Regions from separate parts of the Homo sapiens genome. Here region 2 is linked to region 1. Evidence: fine-mapped expression QTL. A gene starts in region 1. The other region holds a variant in brackets. All regions are shown on one strand. Distances are between the middles of the regions.

Region 1 (8,000 bases):
CCACTGCACTCCAGCCTGGGCGACAGAGCGAGACTCTGTTTCAAAAAAAAAAAACAAAAAACAAAAGAAACGGGGAGACCTGGTAACACCGGGCCTGTTTCCCATGACAGCACATGCCTGGCTCCTGAGCCAGAGTGTACACGCAGCAGTGCACCCTGCTCCCAGTTCCCACCCCTGGACGCCACAGCACTCCAGTCCTTTATCCTTGACTAGGCCCCAAATGCCTTTGAGATTGTGGTGCCCCCCCACCCCCAATCTAGGCAGCACCCTGACAGGACGTGTGCATGGCCGGAAAGGGGCTGGCTTTCTGGAGGATGTGGGTGCAACCCTCTGGGGCCTGGATTTAGTCGCCACCTGCCCGGAGTGGGCATTGGCCCTGTGGCCGTGGCCCGGTACTGAGTGGTGCTGGGGTGCAGCCCAAGCCCCCACGCCGCTGACCCCAGCCCCTTGCTCCTTTGGGATCCGCAGAAGCTGGAGGATCAGGAGCAGCGGGCCCGACAGCTCAAGGAGAGGCTGCGCAGCAAGCAGCAGAGCCTGCAGCGGCAGCTGGAGCAGCTCCGGGGGCTGGCAGGGGCGGCCGAGCGGGAGCGGCTGCGGGCGGACAGTCTGGACTCCTCAGGCCTCTCCTCTGAGCGCTCAGACTCAGACCAAGGTGAGTGCCCCGAGGCTGAGGGGTTGTGTGGCCCTCGGGGCGAGCCAGGTCTTCTGACCGGACCCCTCCCCGCGCAGAGGAGCTGGAGGTGGATGTGGAGAGCCTGGTGTTTGGGGGTGAGGCCGAGCTGCTGCGGGGCTTCGTCGCCGGCCAGGAGCACAGCTACTCGCACGGCGGCGGCGCCTGGCTATGATGTTCCTCACCCAGGGCGGGCCTCTGCCCTCTACTCGTGCCAGGCCCACTTGCCAGGCAGGAGCCCTCCCCAAGCCTTCAGGGCTGCTCGGAGTCACCTGTTGGAATGGACTAAAAGGACCCTTGTGTGGGAACAGGTGCTCCCCAAACACCCTGCTGCTGGCTGCCAGGCAGGCCCTCTGGAAGGGAAGGGGCAGGACTCATCAGGACCTCCCTGGACCCCTGCAGGGCAGGCAGCTTGGGCCCGAGCCCAAGCATTTGGCTCTGCTGCCCCCAAGGGGACAGGAAGCCTCTTGGGCCTCTTCCCTTCCTGGACAAGGCCCCCTGCCTTTGCCTCACATAAACTGTACAGTATTTTCATTAAAAGCCTCTTTCATAACTTCCCGTCCATAGTCTTGCCTAATGAAAACGGGGGAACTCCCAACCACAGACCCACTGGAAGAGGAAATAATATCAGTTCCCATCACTGACACTGTTGGCCGTGCCAGGCAGTGCACTTAATTCTCACAACTTGAGGCTGTTCTGTCTCCACTTCACGGATGGTAGAAATGAGGCTGAGTGACGTGACTCGCCTGAGGTCCAAAAACAGTGAAGCCAAGATTCAAACCAGAGCCTTCCGACTCCAGAGCTGGGGCCAACTGAATTCAACAAGTATTTATTGAGTGTCTATTATGTGCTAGATACTGAGACACATCAGAGAACAAAACCAAAAGCCCTGCCCTTGTCGGGCTTACAGTCTAGCACTTACCGCCAGTTAACCTGCAGGCTACCTGGAGCCCCGGGCAAGTCACCGCACCTCTGTGCCTCGGTCCTCAGCTGCCCAATGGGAGAATAAGCAGACCTGGCTCAGACATGAATCATGTGCTTGGTGTACTGCAGATGCCAAACTGCATCCCCACAACCCACCACGTAGACAGCAGACAGGGCTGGAAGTTGATTTTTAATGATAAAGTACAATGAAGGGAGGGCAGAGAGGCTAAGCCTAGCTGTCTGGGGTGCTGTGGTGGTGGTAGACTGGCTACACAAACTGTTGCTGCTGCTGCTGCTTCTTGGTGGCCGCCTTGCTGGCGAGGTCCTTGGCCTTCTCTGTAGCTGCCAGTGCCGTCTCCTTTGCCTTCTCCTTGGCTTCCTTGGCTGTCTCAACAAGTGTTTTGGAAGGGGCCTCGCCTGTCGCGAACGGCAGGTGGCTGCCTTTAGAAGATGCCTGAAAGACCAACCTAATTTCCCTCCCCCATGACACCAATCTCCTCTGGGCCAGGCTCCACTAAAAAGGTGGTATTCACCCTCCTCCCACCCCCAGTACAGACAAGGAGTCCCAGCTCAGAGCAGGGCAATGACTAACCCAGACTCCACGCCCGCTAGGCTGAATGAGCCTCTCCCTATGAGGAATATCCACATACCCAGAAACTCACCTTGCAGCTTAGCCAAGATATATTCAAAACCCTTCATAGTCTTGGTCACGTTGCTTTTGAATCGGGCAAGACCAAATTCCTGGCATGAGATGAGAATGGGAAGGATACTGAGTTGCCCACTGACCCCAGCCCAGCCCCAACACCGAAAGCACTGGGTCCCAGAGCCCCAGCAGCCCCAACAACACTGCTCACCTGGACAGCTCTGGAGACACCAAATAAGCTAGAGGAGACCCAGGCTTCCCGGCGGATTTCAGTCCAGCCACTGTTGTCAGAGTTCACACAGTAAACACATCGTTCCTCCACCACCTATGCAGAGGCCAACCACAATCGTGGAACAGTCTTTCATTTTGCCAACTTGCACATAAATCTGACTCCCTGTCACTTTTCATGAGGCGAAGCAATACAATGAAAATCCATTCCTTCCCCTGACTGCACCTCCAAGTGGCACTGACAGAACAAGAAGCCATAAATAAGGTCGTTTTGCTCTCGAAAACCTCTCTTCTGACTCTTAAACTAGAAGGCAAAAGGTCTCTCTCTTGAGATCAACAAAGGGCCTTCCAGCCCATCCTGCTCCTGGATTTTGTTTTGTGCATCTAGACGCATGCAGTGTTTTAGCCGCCTTCCACCAGCTGCAGCTCTGGAGCTTCCTGACAGTCCAAATAAAAACATTTGCCCGGCGCGGTGGCTCACGCCTGTAATCTTAGCACTTTGGGAGGCCGAGGCGGGCGGATCACTTGAGGTTAGGAGTTCGAGACCAGCCTGGCCAACATGGTAAAACCTTGTCTGTACTAAAAATACAAAAATTAGCCAGGCGTGGTGGTGTGTGCTTAGAAATCCACCTCTTCAGAAGGCTGAGGCACGAGAATTGCTTAAACCCAGGAGGTGGCAGTGGCAGTGAGGTGAGATCATGTCACTACACTCCAACCTGGGTGAGACTCTTGTCACCAGAAAAAAACAAAAAACAGAAAAAAAAAAAAGAAAAGCACTGCCTCCGCCACTCAGCATCACTCCTGTGAGTCCAACATATATCTGTGCCATAGATGCCAGATGGGAGCGCTTTGCATTTAGAACTTAGGACAACTCCGTAAGATAGGTACCCCTCCCCCACTGTATGAATGAGTCAAAGGACAGGTCCAGAGAGGATGGCCAGCTGAAAAGAAGAAAACCTGAGGTCATACTCTACAGCTGTCAACCCTCAGTAACCCAGACCTGCCTCCGGCCACAAAAGCTGCCTTATGGCTCTCTAGCCACATGTATCTGAGGAGCTCTCTATCTCGGGGGGAGGGGAGAGGGGGAGGTGCAGAATCACAACAGGAGGTGTCTCACCATCAGCCGGGCGTGGTTGATGTTCCAGGTGAAGGTAGTCATGGTCTGATTCTGTGGGTCCACAATAGAGTCCTCCAGGACGTACACCGAGTGAGCAACATTGGCAGGAAATAGTCGCTCGGCCCAGCGTGGCATCCTGTTGGTCTTGGTCAGGAGTCGCCGGGACAGCAGTTTCTGGTCAGGGGTCACCTCCCGGTGTACTATGTCTTCCGTCAAGACATGTTTGCTGCAGGTGTCAGGGTGAAGGTGACCCTCAGAAGCTTGCCCCTAAGAGACTGCCCGAGGGGATTCCCATTTGGAGGCTCCGGGCCTAGAGAGGCCACGCCTTCCCGTAACCTTGCAGGGTGGTATGTGCTATGGTTCAAACCAGAGTTAAGGGCCCATCCCAGGGCAAATTCCCACTCCCGCCATCTGACTGACCTGGATTCCTGCCTTCTAGCAGGAATGGACCTCATGATTTATTGCACCCCAGGAAAGCGCCACGGGCAGAGAAATAGGATTTCCAACTCCAAGATCCCTCCCAACTCCCATACTGCCGCCTCTTCTTGTCTCACCACACTGAGAAAAGAATCTTACACTAAGGTCTCAAGTAAACCACCACCCAGGCCCAACCTCCCTTCAGGACCTTGCAGGCCTGGCCTGGCCGCTTCCCCGATAAGGTCTACCTAGGATTCGATATCGAGTCCTTCCTGGTCCCAGTACTTGGGGGTTACCCATAATTCGATCTCCAGATAGCGAGATGGCGCGGTTTTGCTCTTCCAAATACCACGTACCTATAGGGATTCGGGTACCGCTGCCAGAAGGCGGCGAACACTTGGTCCCAGGAACTCCGGAGCACGCTCTGGCCCAGGAAATACTTCACCATCGTCCCGGCCGAAGCGGGCTCAGCACCCGCGCAGCATCAGGGGTGCGGAGCCTGGGAGGCACGCGAGGGCCGGGCCGGGCCGGGGCTCGGCGCACACCCGCCGCCAGGCTCGTAGCTCAGTCACCACCGCACCGCGCCCAAGCAGCTGCCGCCGCCGCCGCCGCCGCCATGAGTTGTCCGGCCGCGCGCCACTTCCGGCGCAGCCACACAGTAGCCACCGCTTCCGGCGCCCGCGCCACGTGACCTTGCGGCCCCGCCCCCTCGCCCTCTAGCCCCCTCCCGCGGGAGTCGCGGCGCTGCGGGTAGGAGCCGGGTTGCGGGAGACCCCAGGTTCGGTTGGGATTCCCAGCCAGAACGGAGCTTAAGCCGGGCAGGCGAGCGAATGACGGAGTAGCGAGCTGCACGGCGGCGTGCTGCGCTGTTGAGGACGCTGTCCCGCGCGCTCCCAGGCCGCCCCGAGGCTTGGGGTCTTCGAAGGATAATCGGCGCCCGGGGCCGAACAGCGGGGGCACACGGGGCGCTGCCGAAGTGCAAGGCCACGGCCAGAGCTCGAGCCCGACGCGCTGTCTGGAGTCGTAGGTTGGCGCCGTTTGGGGTCGGGGTCTGAGGCTTGGGCGCTGCCTGGGCCGAGCGGAGATCGGGGTTTGCCTCCCGTCCCCGCTCAGGACCCTGACGTGGCTGAAGCGGCCCCGGGAGCATGAGCGGGCAGCGCGTGGACGTCAAGGTGGTGATGCTGGGCAAGGAGTACGTGGGCAAGACTAGCCTGGTGGAGCGCTACGTGCACGACCGCTTTCTGGTGGGGCCTTATCAGAACGTGAGTGCATCCGGAGGGGCCAGGCACGGTGGGCGGGGGAGTGGGGGGCCGGTAATCTGCACCTATGGCCCCGATCTCTTCCCTCTCGTTGCAGACCATCGGGGCCGCCTTCGTGGCCAAGGTGATGTCGGTCGGAGACCGGACTGTGACATTAGGTATTTGGGTAAGTCCCCCGGCCATCTATTCTTGGGAGACTCATTCCTGAGGAGGTGTAGGTCCTGCCTATTACTGGTTGATTTGTGGCCTCACAGACCCATTTCTCATAGACCCGTTTCCTTATCTGGAAAATAGCGGGGTCTGGAGAACGTGGCCTTAAGTTTGACTCAGGCCTTACTCTTTAGGACACAGCAGGCTCTGAGCGCTATGAGGCCATGAGTAGAATCTACTATCGGGGTGCCAAGGCTGCCATCGTCTGCTATGGTAAGGGGGGGGGGGGTTTGGGCTGTCTCACAAGAAAAGATGGGTGCCAGGCTAGCCAGAGAACAGCCCTTGACCACTTGGTTGTCTCCTGCATGCCGCACACCAAGACCTCACAGACAGCAGCAGCTTTGAGCGAGCAAAGTTCTGGGTGAAGGAACTGCGCAGCCTAGAGGAGGTAGGTGAACAGACCTCACTAGAACACTAGGGGCTGGGGTTTTGTTGGCCTGTGGAGGTGACCCTTGTCTTCTGCCTCAGGGCTGCCAAATCTACTTATGTGGCACCAAGAGTGACCTGCTGGAAGAAGACCGGAGGCGTCGACGTGTGGACTTCCACGACGTCCAGGACTATGCAGACAGTAGCTGCTCCTCAGCCCTTTGGGGGGTGGGGGTGTGTGGCTGTCTGGGTGGATCAAAGAAAATAGGGACTGCCTTGGCTGCCAGGGCAAGGTGCTCTAGGAGGTCTTCCTGGCCTCCTTGAACTGTGGGGTCCAGGAGACTCCCTGAACTGCTAGCCCTCCCTTTTGTCTGTTTATCTAATTCTCAGGTATGAGGCTTTAGTCACTTCTCTTTACAGATATCAAAGCTCAGCTCTTTGAAACATCCAGCAAGACAGGCCAGAGTGTGGGTGAGTGCTGTGCTGGAGCCTCACAGCAGGAACATGCAGGGGCACCAGAGGAAGCTGAATAGGGCACAGAGGGCTGGGTCACTGGGAGATCCCAGGGCTACTGGCATTGGGCCCTCGCTGATCATCATTTTTCCTGCCAGACGAGCTCTTCCAGAAAGTGGCAGAGGATTACGTCAGTGTGGCTGCCTTCCAGGTGATGACAGGTGTGTGCTTCCCCAGCCTTTATGGAGACTTACTCTAGGCCCACAGCATCTAGCCCCTTTCCTGAGTTACCTGATCCCAACAGAATGGTGCTGAGCTGCCACCTCTCTTTTTGACAGAGGACAAGGGCGTGGATCTGGGCCAGAAGCCAAACCCCTACTTCTACAGCTGTTGTCATCACTGAGTCAGCACTCACCTGGCCTGGGGGAATTAAAGGAATTCCCCGTAAGGGCTGGACCCAGCTCCTTTCTGGGCTTGGGTAGTCAAATGTCTGAGCTACCCCAGGTCCTCATGTCAGCAGAGTGGCGCCTGCCTGTGCTGGCCCATGGAACGGAGACAGCATTGGGCTGACTGTGGGCATGAGGAGGGATAAGGCTGATTTGGACCCCAGGCTTCTGCCCTGGACAGCACTTGTGTCTGCAGATTATTTAAGTGGCTTTTGATCTGTAAATAAAATCAGTGCACTGTGCATCACACCCAGCCCCTTTCCCTGCTGTGTGGATTAGGTGTCAAGACACCTAGTTCTTCCTGGGGCCACCCGGCTGGCCTCACTGCTTATATTAAGGCTCCTCCCAACTCTCATTTTCCTTTGGAAAACAAGACTTTTTTCCCCATGGTTACCGCTGAGATACTGGGGCTGTAGTAGTATAAAAGCTCACAGTTCCTTCTGAGTGCTGAAAAGAGTGCATGAGTTGCTTCGAAATAAAAGGGTCAAGCATTCCTACCTGAGACAGGTTGGTCTGACTAGCTCTACTGCATCTGTCATGTTTGGGCCCCTATGTCAGACCTGTGACTCAGGTCCTGAGCTTCCCAGTGACATCCTACAATGTGGTTTAATGGTAGGAAAGTCCTAAGTTCTGTAAGCCAGAAAGGTCTAATGGATCCAGATTTGGTTCCAATTCAGCTGCTAATTTAGAAAAGGGACTTAAATCCTCATCTTGAGTTTCTCATCTGTAAAATAAGGTGACTACTATGCAGCCCAAGGATTGTGAAGAAAGTGAAGAGTAACTCTAGTACTAAATGTTTTTCCCAATCTTCCCAAGCACTTTTTGCTGAAAGGGCAGGAAGTTCAGGACTAGGTCACAAAGGGAAGCAAACTCCCAAGTTTTCCCCAAAGAAGATCCAGATATTTCTGAGGAATCAGGTGTTAACTGTAAACAGGGCTGACACTTGCTGCTCAACCAGAAGGAAATTTATTGCAGCCCTTTCTGGTATGGAGGGTGTGGCCCCAGGCCAGGGGCTTTCCCTTAGTTTTATCCTTTGCCTCTGCTTTCCTGCCTTTATTTAGGCCTGGGCTGAGTCCTCTGCAGTGGCCAACACCTGCCTTGGAAAAATGTACAACTTAGCCAACATGGTCAGACTCACACTCAGAGAGTGCTTTGGTTCCACTTCCTTTTTAAAAACCAATTCCTCAAACTGCCCTTCCTTCATGAGTGATGGGGGCTTCCTGTGGAGGGAGACTGAAACTGAAACCAGCCACTCCCAACAGAGGGA
Region 2 (8,000 bases), 140 kb after region 1:
TTTCTACGTAAGAAATTTCATGGCTGGGCGCGGTGGCTCATGCCTGTAATCCCAGCACTTTGGGAGGCCAAGGTGGGTGGATCATGAGGTCAGGAGTTCAAGACCAGCCTGGCCAACATAGTGAAACCCCGTCTCTACTAAAAATACAAAAATTAGCCGGGCATGGTGATGCGTGCCTGTAGTCCCAGCTACTCGGGAGGCTGAGGCAGGAGAATCACTTGAACCCAGTAGGTGGACGTTGCAGTGAGCCGAGATCGTGCCACTGCATTCCAGACTTGGCAACAGAACGAGACTCCGTCTCAAAAAAAAAAAAAAAAAAGAGACATTTCATTAATCTTTATCACTTTTGGCATTATTTGTCAACTGAGGGAGAAATTAACTAATTATTTCACATTTACTTTTGAAGGCCAGCAGTAATCCCAGGAACTTGAGACCAACCTGGGCAACACAGGGAGACCCTGTCTCTTGAAAACATTTTTTAAAAATTAGCCAGGTATGGCTGAACATAGTGGCTCATGTCTGTAATCCCAGCACATTGGGAGGCCGAGGCAGGTAGATCACTTGAGCTCATGAATTCTAGACCAGCCTGGGCAAACATGGCAAAACCCCATCTCTAAAAAAAATAAAAAATTAGATGGGTGAGGTAGCGCCTGTGCCAGCTACTCAGGAGGCTGAGGTGGGAGGACTGCTTGAGCCCAGGAGGCAGTGAGCTTAGATCACACCACTGCAGTCCAGCCTGCATGACAGAGAGTAAGACCCAGCCTCAAAAAAGCTATAATGGGCAAGGCAAGGTAACTCATGCCTGTAATCCCAGCACTTTGGGAGGCCAAGGTGGGCGGATCGCTTGAGCTCACAAGTTTGAGACCAGCCTAGCCAATAGGGCGAAAGAAACCCTGTCTCTACAAAAGCATGGTGACACATGCCTGTGGTTCCAACTACTCATGAGGCAGAGGTGAGAGGATCGCTTGAATCTGGGATGCAGAGGTTGCAGTGAGCCGAGATCCTACCACTGAACTCCAGCCTGCGTGACAGAGTGAGACCCCCATCTCAAACAAACAAACAAACAAACTATAATGACTTCCAGCCTGGTTAATTTTAACAAATTCCTAGTAAAAATTTGGAAAGACCCGATGACATTTTTCAACTAGATTTTTTTTTTTTTTTAAGACCGAGTCTCACTCTCTTGCCCAACCTGGAGGGCAGTGTCCTGATCTCAGCTCACTGCAACCTCCACCTCCCGGGTTGAAGCAATTCTCATGCCTCAGCCTCCCGAGTAGCTGGGACTACAGCCATGAGCCACCACGCCCAACTAATTTTTGTGTTTTTAGTAGAGATGAGGTTTCCCCATGTTGGCCAGGCTAGTCTCGAACTCTGGATCTCAGGTGATCTGCCCACCTCAGCCTCCCAAAGTGCTGAAATTACAGGAGTGAGCCACAGCGCCCGGCCTCAATTAGATTCAATCTGTGCTTTTTCCCACTGAGTAGCAGCCAAAATTAAGAAACAGAAACAAGTGCCTAGAACAGTGGCTCACACCTGTAATCTCAGCACTTTGGCAGGCTGAGGCAGGTGGATCTGTTGAAACCAGGAGTTCAAGAACAGCCCGGCCAACATGGTGAAACCCCATCTCTACTAAAAATACAAATATTAGCCAGGCGTGGAGGAGGCTAGAGGAGGAGAATCACCTGAACCCAGGAGGCAGAGGTTGCAAGTGTGCCAAGATCATGCCACAGCACTCCAGGCTGGACTCTATCTCAAAAAACAAAAACAAAAAAAAAAAAAAAGAAAGAAAGAAACAGAAAACAGGTTTATAAATAACCCAATGTTCACAGGAAAAATTCAGGTAAAAAAAATATAATTTCAATCGTTTGCACAAAAAATAGAGGCCTAGATGGAAGGATTACTTGAGCCCAGGAGTTTGAGACCCAGCCTGGGCAAAATAGTAAGACCCTATCTCTATTTAGAAAAAAATTTTTTAAAAATAGGAGAATATAGGGAAAGGTCTATCTACACCTTGCCTACCCCTCCAATGTCATCCCTTCCTGCCCCACCCTCCCAGCCTAATCACGCCACACTGAATTTTTTTTTTTGAGACAGCATCTCACTCTGTCACCCAGGCTGGAGTGCATAATCAGAGCTCACTGCAGCCTGGAACTCCTGAGCTCAGATATCTTCCCACCTCAACCACCCAAGTAGCTGGGACCACAGGCACATGCCACTCCACCCAGCTAATTTATTTTTTTTGTAGAGGCCGGATCTCCCTATGTTCCCCAGGCTTGTCTCAAACTACTGGGCTCAAGCTAGACTCCCACCTCAGTCTCCTAAAGTGCTGCGATCACAGGCATCAGCCCCCATGCCTGGCCCATACTCAACTTTTTATTCTCCCAAAGCAGCAGCTTTGGGAGAATAAAATTACTCCTGTAATTTCAGCACTTTGGGAGGCTGAAGTGGGCAGATCACCTGAGGTCCAGAAGTTGAGACTAGCCTGGCCAACATGGGGAAACCTCATCTCTACTAAAAACACAAAAATTAGCTGGGCGTGGTGGCTCATGGCTGTAGTCCCAGCTACTTGGGAGGCTGAGGCATGAGAACTGCTTCAACCTGGGAAGGGGAGGTTGCAGTCCTTATAATCCTAGATCATGCTCCTCTCAAGCAAGCACATGTTGCCCTGCCTCAGGTACAATGATACTCCTATCTTACCAGTGCCTGGGACATAGTAGGCAACTCAAAAAAACAACTGAGTGACAAATAAATAAATAAAAGGGCTGTCCCAGTTAATGTTAGCAATTTTCAAAATGCAAAATTACCAAAAAAAGTCCTTGATAAACTCTCTTTTAATTGAGAACTTAAGAAGTAATTGCAGGCGGGGCACAGTGGCTCACTCCTGTAATCCCAACACTTTGGGAGGCTGAGGAAGGCAGGTCACTTGATGTCAGGAGTTCGAGACCAGCCTGGCCAACATGGTGAAAGCCCGTCACTACTAAAAATACAAAAAAATCAGCCGGGCGTCGTGGCACGTGCCTGTAACCCCAGCTACTCAAGAGGCTGACACAGGAGAATCTCTTGAACCTGGGAGGTGGAGGCTGCAGCGAGCCTAGAGTGTGGATTCCAGCCTGTGCGACAGAGTGAAACTCTGTCTCAAAAACAAAAAACAAAAGAAAAGAAAAAAAAACACATTAAAAAATGAAGTAAAGCTCATTCAAGGGTAATCTTGAAGACAGTATTACCCTGATACCAACACCAGACAAAGACATCACAAGAACACTGTACACTTAGCCGGGTACAGTAGCTCATGCCTGTAATCCCAGCACTTGGGAAGGCGGAGGCAGGCACATCACCTGAGGTCAGTAGTTCAAGATCAGCCTGGCCAACATGGTGAAACTCCATCTCTACAAAAACACAAAAAAATTATTCAGGCATGGTGGTGCACACCTGTGGTCCCAGGTACTCAGGAGGCTGAAGCAGGAGAATCGCTTGAGCCAGGGAGGCAGAGGTTGCAGTGAGCTAAGATCACACCGCTGCATTCCAGCCTGGGCCACAGAGCGAGACTCCATTTAAAAAAAAAAA[A/T]ATATATTCGGCCGGGTGCAGTGGTTCACACCTGTAATCCCAGCACTTTGGGAGGCCGAGGCAGGCGGATCACCTGAGGTCAGGAGTTCGAGACCAGTCTCAACACGGAGAAACCCCATCTCTAACAAAAATACAAAATTAGCCAGGCGTGGTGGTATATGCCTGCAATCCCAGCTACTCGGGAGGCTGAGGCAGAATTGCTTGAACGTGGGAGGCGGAGGTTGCGGTTAGCCAAGATCGCACCATTGCACTCCAGCCTGGGCAACAAGAGCGAAACTCCGTCTCAAAAAAAAAAAAAAAAAAATTCAGACTTAGGCCAGACTTGGTGGCTCATGCATGTAATCTCAGCACTTTGGAAGGCTTAGGTGGGCGGTTCACCTGAGGTCAGGAGTTTTGAGACCAACCTAACCAATGCGGTGAAACCTCGTCTCTACTAAAAATACAAAAATTAACCAGGTGTGGTGTCACACACCTGTAATCCTAGCTACTTGGGAAGCTGAGGCACCGGAATCGCTTGAACCAGGGAGATGGGTTACAGGGAGCCAAGATACTGCCACCGCACTCCAGCCTGGACAACCGAGTGAGACTGTGTCTCAAAAACAAACAAACAAACAAAAAAAAAAACTGGAAAGAAAAAGGGAAAAAGAACAACTGCAGACTTAATTCATCCTTCATGAATTAAGACAAAAAATCCGGGCATGGTGGCGAGTGCCTGTAATCCCAGCAACTCGGGAGGCTGAGGTACAAGAATCACTTGAACCCCGGAGGCGGAGGCTGCCATAAGCCAAAATGGCACCACTGCACTCCTGCCTGGGTGACAGAGTGAGACTCCATCTCATTCATTCATTCATATATATATATATATATCATTCATATATATATATATATATATATATATAAAATCATTCATATATATGTGTGTATATATGTGTGTGTATATATATATGTGTGTATATATACACACACACACACACAAACTATATATAAAAAACTTTCCAAAGGTATTAAAGATCTAAATATTTAAGTTGGTGCAAAATAATTCCAGTTTTTGCCATTACTTCCTTTTTTTTTTTTTTGAGATGAAGTCTCACTTCATCACCTAGCCTGGAGTGCAGTGGTGCAATCTTGGCTCACTGCAGCCTCAGCTTCCTGGGCTCAAGCGATGCTACCACCTCAGTCGCCCTAGTAGCTGGGATTACAGGCTAAAATTAAAAAGACAGCAATAAATGTTGATGAGAATATTAAGAATTTAGAACCCACGCCCGGATGCAGTGGCTCATGCCTGTAATCTCGGCACTTTGGGAGGCCGAGGTGGGTGAATCACCTGAGGTCAGGAGTTCAAGACCAACCTGGCCAATGTGGTGAAACCCTGTCACTACCAAAAATACAAACATTAGCCAGGCGTGGTGGCGGGCGCCTGTAGTCCAAGCTACTTGGGAGGCTGAGGCAGAGAATTGCTTGAACCCGAGAGGCGGAGGCTGCAGTGAGCCAAGACCATGCCACTGCACTCCAGCCTGGGCTACAGAGGGAGACTCTGTTCTAAAAAAAGAAAGAAAGAAAGAAAGAAAAGAAAGAAAAGAAAGAAAAGAAAGAAAAGAAAGAAAGAAAGAAAGAAAGAAAGAAAGAAAGAAAGAAAGAAAGAAAGAAAGAAAGAAAGAAATTAGAACCCATATAGGCTAAAGTAGGACTGTAAAACGGTGCAACCACTATGTAAAACAGTCTGGCTGTTCCTCAAAATGCTAAACATAGAATGACCCTATGATCCGACAATACCACTTCTAGGTATTTTCCCAAGAGAACTGAAAACATATATTCACGCTAAAACTTTAATACAAATTTTCACAGTAGCACTGCCTGTAACAGCCACAAAGTGGAAGAAACAAAATGTCCGTCAAGTGATGAAAAGACAAACAAAAAGTGGCATCAGTACAAAGCAATATTCAGCAGTAAAATGGAATGAAGTATGCATACATACAACAACATAAATGGGCCTTAAAACATTATGCTAAGTTAAACAAGTCAGACACGAAAGGCCACAAATTATATGACTGTATTTGTATGAAACGCCTAGAATAGGCAAATACATAGAAACATGAATTAGATTAGTGGTTGTGAGGGGCTAGAGGAGACTTAATGGGAAATGACTGCTGGGAATGGGTTTTCTTTTGGGGTGATGAAAGGTTCTGGAATTAGACAGTGGTAACAGTTGTTCAACTCTACACCCTTTAAGTAGCTGCATTTTATTCTTTATTTTTGAGATACAGTTTCACCCTGTAGCCCAGGGACTGAGTGCAGACTCAGCGTCCTGAGTAGGTGGATTACAGGTGTATGCCACCACACCGGGCTAATTTTTGTATTTTTAGTAGAGATGGGGTTTCACCATGTTGGCCAGGCTGGTCTCAAACTCCCTGACCTCAAGTGATCTGCCCACCTCTACCTCCCAAAGTGCTGGGATTACAGGCATGAGCCACTGCGCCTGGCCAAAGAGGGTGAATTTTATCTTATGTGAATTATATATTTTTTTTTTCTTGGAGACGAAGTTTCGCTCTTGTTGCCCAGGCTGGAGTGCAACAGCACGATCTCCGCTCACCACAACCTCCACCTCTCAGGTTCAAGCAATTCTCCTACCTCAGCCTCCCGAGTAGCTGGGATTACAGCCATGCGCCACCACACCAGCTAATTTTGTATTTTTAGTAGAGACAAAGTTTCACCATGTTGGTCAGGCTGGTCTCAAACTCCTGACCTCAGGTGATCCATCCACCTCAGCCTCCAAAAGTGCTAGGATTACAGTTGTGAGCCACCGTACCCGGCCTATACTTTGATTTTTAAAATGCAATTAGTATACATTTATTTATTCACTTATTTATTTAGAGACGGAGTCTTGCTAATGCAGTTAGTATACATTTATTTATTTATTTATTTATTTAGAGACAGAGTCTCGCTCTGTCCTCCAGGCTGGAATGCCGTGGTGCGATCTCAGCTCAAAGCAACCTCTGCCTCCTGGGCACAAGCTATTCTCCTGCCTCAGCCTAAGACGGGGTTCCACCATGTTGGCCAGGCTGGTCTTGAACTCCTGACCTCAGAAGATCTGCCCGCCCCAGCCTCCCAAAGTGCTGGGATTACAGGTATGAGCCACCACCATGCCTTTAAATTTGCAACTATATAACCAATATACATTAAAACATGACATACTATAAAAAATTCTTATGTAAAATAGTATCAAGTATTAGCTTGATTGTTTTTCATGAAGAGGGGGTCTTGATATTATTGCCAAGGCAGGTCTTGAACTCCTGGGCTCAAGCAATCCACTTGCCTCAGCCACCCAAAGTCCTGGGACTAGAGGCCATGAGCCACCGCTCCAAGCCAAGTCTGATTTTTTAAGTTCATGCTTTAACAAAAATTCTCTTAAAAATCTAAAAAAGGCCCGGCGGAGGCTTACGCCTGTAATTCCAACACTTTGGGAGGCTGAGGAAGACAGATCACGAGGTCTAAAGAACGAGACCATCCTGGCCAACATGGTGAAAGCCTGTCTCTACAAAAAATACAAAAATTAGCTGGGCATAGTGGTATGCACCTGTAGTCCCAGCCACTCAGGAGGCTGAGGCAAGAGAATCACTTCAACCCAGGAGGCAGAGGTTGCAGTGAGCCAAGATCGCGCCACTGCACTCCAGCCTGGAGACAGAGCAAGACTCCATCTCAAAAAAAAAAAAAAAAAAAAAAAAATCTGAAAAGAGCGAGGGAAGAGTACGGAGGAATAAATATTTATTGGTCCCTAAATGCCCTAGAATACCTAGGGTATTCCATATTCGAAGGTATTTAGGGTCCAATAAATATTTATTATTCCTTTTCCCCCTCAACTACAATAATTAATCTTCATTAAGAATCCCCATGCAGGCCAGACGCAGTGGCTCACACCTGTAATCCCAGCACTTTGGGAGGCTGAGTCGGGCATATCACCTGAGGTCAGGAGTTCGAGACCAGCCTGGCCGACATGGTGAAACCTGTCTCTACCAAAATTACAAAAAATTACCTGGGTGTATTTTGTAAAAATACAAAAATTAGCGGACACCTGTAATCCCAGCTACTGGGGAAGCTGAGGCAGAAGAATTGCTTAACCCAGGAGGCAGAGGTTGCAGTGAACCGAGATTGTGTCATTGCACTCTAGCCTGGGCGACAGAGTGAGACTCTGGTCTCAAAAAATAAACAAATAAATAAATAAGAATAAAAATAAATTGCATATATACAGTTGTTCACTTTCAGAATGTATGAACAGGAAATATCTATACATTCATGCAAAATAAAACCATCCAGGTTTAAAAAAAAAAAAAAAAAAAAAGCCAGTGCGGTGGCTTATGCCTATAATCCCAGCACATTGGGAGGCCAAGGCAGGCAGATCACCTGAGGTCAGGAGTTCGAGACCAGCTTAGCCGACATGG

Direction of the effects. Positions count from the first base shown, and alleles are read on the strand shown. Sizes are in standard deviations (SD) of each study's normalised expression.
For the expression in skeletal muscle of the gene that starts at base 4,714 in region 1, A is the low allele of the variant in region 2 and T is the other (small effect, 0.37 SD a copy in FUSION).

Evidence for each region. PIP is the estimated chance that this variant, and not a neighbour inherited with it, causes the effect.
Region 2: its variant is fine-mapped to the expression of RAB24 in skeletal muscle (FUSION, PIP 0.95).

What each region holds. Positions count from the first base shown.
Region 1 is chr5:177,300,433-177,308,432 of GRCh38, reverse strand. RAB24 (RAB24, member RAS oncogene family) reads left to right here and starts at 4,714. Exons shown (of 8, transcript NM_001031677.4): 1 at 4,714-5,261; 2 at 5,356-5,424; 3 at 5,603-5,681; 4 at 5,789-5,856; 5 at 5,937-6,036; 6 at 6,255-6,305; 7 at 6,446-6,508; 8 at 6,626-7,235. The coding sequence starts at 5,145. The coding sequence ends at 6,690. PRELID1 (PRELI domain containing 1) reads right to left here and starts at 4,634. Exons shown (of 5, transcript NM_013237.4): 1 at 4,356-4,634; 2 at 3,583-3,808; 3 at 2,449-2,562; 4 at 2,257-2,335; 5 at 1,484-2,011. The coding sequence starts at 4,447. The coding sequence ends at 1,863. It overlaps MXD3 (MAX dimerization protein 3), which reads left to right. Exons shown (of 6, transcript NM_031300.4): 5 at 469-652; 6 at 730-1,223. The coding sequence ends at 845. RefSeq lists enhancers at 911-990, 3,504-3,573, 3,584-3,653, 3,804-3,863, 3,884-3,933 and 5 more and silencers at 4,374-4,513, 4,624-4,703, 4,754-4,823, 7,853-8,000.
Region 2 is chr5:177,155,462-177,163,461 of GRCh38, reverse strand. The region is part of intron 2 of NSD1 (nuclear receptor binding SET domain protein 1); the gene reads right to left. Among named protein-coding and RNA genes, the nearest start is that of NSD1, 26 kb to the right of the region's middle. RefSeq lists a silencer at 3,676-3,805. The variant A/T (reference allele first, on the strand shown) is at 3,565.